Regions from separate parts of the Homo sapiens genome. Here region 2 is linked to region 1. The links come from fine-mapping of genetic effects on gene expression. Tissue or cell type: whole blood. Region 1 holds a variant in brackets; the other region holds the start of a gene. All regions are shown on one strand. Distances are from middle to middle.

Region 1 (2,686 bases):
ACAATCTCTAGATGGCTTAAAAGTATGTGCATTTTAAAAGAATTTACAACTAAACACTGATCATCAAACTTCCCAGTTATGAATATTTACTTCTAAGCTACCACAGGAGAAGGAAGGTAAAAGGTAAAAATGTTGAGGATAATATTCTTGAGAGAACTCCCCCTTAAAGAGGCTTCTCAGATTACTTCAGCAGGCAGGAATGTCATACCTTCATCACTCTTTTTTTTAATTTTATTTTATTTAAGACAGGGTCTGGCTCTGTCGCTCAGGCTGGAGTACAGTGGCGAGATCTTGGCTCACTGCAACTTCTGCCTCCCAGGCTCAGGCAATCCTCTCACCTCAGCTTCCCAAGTAACTGGGACTACAGGCACGTGCCACGATGCCAGGCTAATTTTTTTATTTTTTTGTAGAGACAGGGTTTCGCCATGTTGCCCTGGCTGGTCTGAAACTCTTGGGCTGAAGCAATCAGCCTGTCTTAGCCTCCCAAAGTGCTGGGATTACAGCCATGAGTGAGTGCCCAGCCACTCATTACTCTTGGAGATTATTTAAAGCAAAATTTAACAATGACAAGTTTCAATTAACTGTTGGCAATCCTATAAATACATAACAATTTGAAATTTTGCTGAGATATGCATTTGATTTAAATATGTAATCCTGATGCATCCAAACTTGTTAATAAATGTGCCTAGCCAATGACACATCTGGGCTTTGCTGTTCTTTGCACATTTATTTTATGAGGGAAATTACTTCCTTCTATGTCATCCCAAATATAAAGATTTCACCTCTAGAAAACATCAAGAGTTTAATCAGTGTTTTAATACAATGTTTCTGTAAGTAGAAGGATGTTATCACTATGTATAATCATTTGATTTCTTCCATAAAAATTCAGCGGCAAACCAAAGTGGGGAGAGATAATGGAAGGGTATATTTACATGAACAATAGAAACAATAGGTAAGGTATCCTTCAATGTTATATCAAAAAAAAATACTCAAGACTTAAAATAGCAGTCTAT[G/A]ACTTTGCATCAAGAGACAAGTCACTTCTAATATATATAACACCCTAGTTTTTAAACTTTTATCGTTACCTGAAACTCCATTCAGGCAAGATTTTCTTGGGTTGCAGTCTCTTAACTGGCTATTCCTTATAGGGGCAAAAAAGCCCTATTGATAAAAAGGGTACAAACTAAAGGTAGAGCCAAGAACCAGGTAACTTAAATTCCAAACTGCCCTGGCACAGTGGGGCTAATGTAAACCATAAATATAGACCACCTCATGCTACTTTATTATTTTTGTGGTGATTAGAATTGTGAGATGATTAAAGTTATTTTGTAACCTTTCAGTTATTTGTTCACATACTCACTTCTGGGTTCCAACTGTTAAGCCCTAAGTATCAGCATTCCACGTATCTGCTGTGGCATATACTAAAAATGTTCCACCAAACACACAAGCAAAACATTCGCGTGACTTCAATGTAACTCCACTTCTTTAACACAACCACTAGGTCATCAACAAACCATCTAGAGACAGCATACAAAAATTTGATTTTTAACAGCATTTGAACCAGTACTTTCTCAAACCGTGCAACTCAAAACACTTACTGATAAGTGGTGGGATTCTGATTAGCAATTCACTGCTTCTTACTCATCCATACTATATATTTGTATATACAGTAAATAAGATTTTGTTCAATAACAAACATAAGATTATTTGAAAACCATACATCTAACTTTATTTTAAAAGAGTGGGCATTTAAATAAATTTGTCTCTTAAAAACTGTTTTCTAAGAAAAATTCTATTTTTGAAAAAAGCCATTGTAGGCTTCTTTAAAGCTAATAAAAGTCATAAATCCAAATGATCTTGAATTAGACAAAAATATACCCCTGTATCCTTTAAGTTTTAAAACCAAGCAATAACAGGCCATGTAAATCTCCAGTACATTCTCTATCAATTATTCTCAAAATACACAGCTCAATAATTACGAATCATGACAAAGGAATACATAGTGTGTACCTCCTCCCATGAAGGCTGATAGTGTATATTTGGTCTAAGAACACGTCTACATAAACTTCCTGACGATATTTTAAAGAATGAAGGTATCATTAAATGTAGACCTTAAGGATTACATTAAATCACTTTTAAGTTATTTTATTTAATATACATACATAGTTTTAGAAGTTAATGGTACTGCAAGATTTAACAGTGTTCTTTGCCATACTTCAGTCACTACTGATTTCTAATCCTCTGAGGTAACCATTTTAAACTCTTCTGTGTCTTCTAGTATTTACTTTTATGCTAAATAATATGCTTATGCTCAAGGAGTTATTATTTTTCTATTTTAGATATTATCTGTCACCTTCCTAATGTGAAAGATGAGGATCTGGCACGCTACATGCACCTCTCAATCTTTCTTCCATAACTTATCATTATTTTAAGTTATATCCATTGTTTTTCACATTCAACTGATAGGAATTCCAAAAGAAGAAGAGAGGGAATGAAATTAGCAAAGCAGTAACAGAAGTTAATTCCCCAAAGCTTTATAAGGACACAAGTCTTCCAGTTGAAAGGGTCCACTGAAGATCCAGCACAATGGATTAGAAGATTCACACTTACATATCTCTTCAGAGAAAAGGCTGAAACTTAAAAAATAAATAAATAAATAAAGTCATAAAGTGGCTCACACCTGTAATCC
Region 2 (2,686 bases), 380 kb after region 1:
GCCACTTCTCGGTTTCATGGTACGCTTTTGAGTCTTCTACCTAAACAGAAAACATTCCTGAGGGCCATATTCTCGTTCCTCATTTCTCTAACTTTATAACGATGCTTCTTTAAAGGGAAGTCTACACTAGTACGGTTTCCATCAGGTTTATTTTACTTCTTTTTTCTCTTTCAGACCACCACTGTCACATGCTCTTGCGCCCGTTATTCTGCTTTTACCTCCTTTCGTATTTCTTTGACCAGGTACTGGATTACTAGTCTTTTAACACAGTCCTCTAAAAGTGACCCAAAAGTCACCCTGGAAAGGGCTTCCTCACGTTATCCTCCTACACAACCTGGGACCCCTCTTCTGTGCGCAGACAGCATCCCGTGCATTTTTCTCTATTGTCACTTTATTGTACTACCACTGCGGATTCTCTCACGGTCTCCTATACAAAAGCACTTCAAAAAGCTGACACCACTTAATTCGCCTCTGACATTCTGGAACCCAAGGCATGGAAACCACTCAGTGAAAAGTCTGAGAAATGAATGGAAACGGAGGTCGGGGCGGGGACAATGGAGGGGGCAGTGGGTGGAGAGAGCGTGCGTGTTTGAAAAGGGGCGGGGGCTATGACCGGCGGCGCTGAGAATCCAGGTCCAGAATCGGGAGGGAGCACGGATACGCCAGAATCTGAGTGGGTGGGAGAGCGATCCACTGCCGAGACAAACCGAAGTGGGGAGGAGGCTTCTTACCTGCCTCGGGCCTCACCACCCCAACCAGCCTTCAGGCACCTCTGTGTTGGCCGGAAAGCGACAGCTACGGTCGCAAACTCAGAGGTTTCGTCCCCAACCTTGCGACATCCCTTTCCAGTACAGGGAGAATCTAAAGCTGAGTTCCCTGCTCTGCCGTAAGGTGAAGAAGAAAAAATTTGGGCGGGGCCGCCTGGGGCGTAGGAAAGGGGGCGTGTCTGCGCAAGCGCACGCTGTACTCTCCAGTGGCGTCACGTGCGGGGGCGGGACAGGGCGGGGCCGACCCGTGCTGGCAGTAGGGGGCGTGGGAGGTAAGTGCGCGCGCGCCTGCTCGCCTGCAGCCGGGGAGTCGCGCGGGGCGGGGCCGCGTGCGCGGGGTCGGGGGCGCGCGACCGAAGCGGATAAGGGACGCGGCGGCGGTTGGCTGTGTCTGTTGAGAGAGTACAGGACAGCCCGGACTGCGAGAGGCGGCGGCGGAGGCAGTAGTTGCACCGGCAGAGGCGGCCGCTGGCAGCGGTTGAGGCGGCGGTCCAACGCGTGCTCTCTGGGCGGGGTGCGGCGGGGGATGTGCCTGCTCAGGCCGGGCGGAGTCTCTCTGACAGGGCGGGGGATGCGCCGCGGCCGCTCGCCCGGACCCTGAGGCTGCTGGGCCCACCCTCCCGGAACCGTCCGACCCTCGGTGGCCTCGGCCTCTTCTGCCATCTCCGGTCCTACCCTGGGGCGGAGGGTGGAAGGCAGCTTCCGTCGAAGAGGAGGGGGCTGCGGTGGCCACCGCGGCGGAGCCCGAGGTAAGACCCGCCCAAGCGCCCAGCGGCCCTGCAGCCCGTCCTGGCCCACGTCTCAGCCTCGCTATTTGGCTCCGGTCGGGCCGCCCCGCCCCGTCCCAGCGGAGACGCCCCGCGAGCGGGTCTGCGCCGAGCCTCCCAAACACCAGATCACGGCCCCGGATCCCCAGTAGACCCCACCCCCTGTATCTTCCATTGGCCGGGCACCATTCCGGCCCTCCAGCCTCCCCGGAGATTCTGTCACGGTCCCCCCAACCCAGCAGACCCCATTAGTACCCCTCAGAGTCCCTTAGGACTCTTAATGGAGCTTCTAGACTACGTTACATCCTCCCTTGGGCTGACGTGATTACAGTTCTCAGGCAAAGTCTCGACCGCCCCCTAACCCATTGCGTCCCCCATGTGCCCCTCGCCCTACTCTTCTTAGTAGAACCCCTCCCAGCTCGCTCATCACCAAGCCGACTAGCACTAACCCTAGCCATCACGGCTTTCAGATAGCCGCTGTCATGGTGTTCTTACTCCCGGTAGATGTGGTGTCAGTCCCTCTAGACACCGTCACAGACTTTGGCTTCTCTCCCACCACCGACTGTAGCCTCTCTCAACAGACCTCTCCTCAAGCAAACCTTGTTATCTTTCTCCTTAGTCGCGATCCTTTCTTTGGTTGAAAGGGCTTTGCCATGAAATCCTGAGGGAATATTTGCTTAGCCTAATGTATTCCCTCCATTGTGGCTTAAGGGGACCGACCGAGACCCATGTTTGGAGGGGTTGGGCTGAAAAAAGTGGGAGGCAGAGTGAAGTTATGGAAGCATGAGGCCAGTTGTGTGTGTGCCATTATAAGGTCACAGAGCCTGCACCTCGTCTTGTCTGTTCTGTGTAGAACGTGTGAGGTTGTCCAGCACTGATGTTTTAGGGACCTCTGTAAGGATTAAATCACGTTGCACTAGTGGATATAACTATGTCGTCTTGTAGTATTACTTCACCTCCTTGTCGATTGCTGCAGATACTAGAACTGTTTCTTATTTTTATTTTTAAAGGATACTAGGGGACTTTTTTTGGATTCACTGTTTTTTGGATTTGCTAGAAAAATAAGATTTGTAGCATTCCTTAATCCCTGAATGCTTCGATGTCGGTTTAATAATAAACTTCTGTTGCCTGGTGCTGCTGTCTTGCTTCTCC

The links. PIP is the estimated chance that this variant, and not a neighbour inherited with it, causes the effect.
Region 2: MYO9A starts here. The variant in region 1 is fine-mapped to the expression of MYO9A in whole blood (INTERVAL, PIP 0.95).

What each region holds. Positions count from the first base shown.
Region 1 is chr15:72,500,362-72,503,047 of GRCh38, reverse strand. The region is part of intron 1 of ARIH1 (ariadne RBR E3 ubiquitin protein ligase 1); the gene reads right to left. Among named protein-coding and RNA genes, the nearest start is that of ARIH1, 27 kb to the right of the region's middle. The variant G/A (reference allele first, on the strand shown) is at 1,014.
Region 2 is chr15:72,116,510-72,119,195 of GRCh38, reverse strand. It overlaps MYO9A (myosin IXA), which reads left to right and starts at 1,046. Exons shown (of 42, transcript NM_006901.4): 1 at 1,046-1,516. It overlaps SENP8 (SUMO peptidase family member, NEDD8 specific), which reads right to left and starts at 793. Exons shown (of 2, transcript NM_145204.4): 1 at 732-793. RefSeq lists a silencer at 925-1,694 and an enhancer at 1,895-2,104.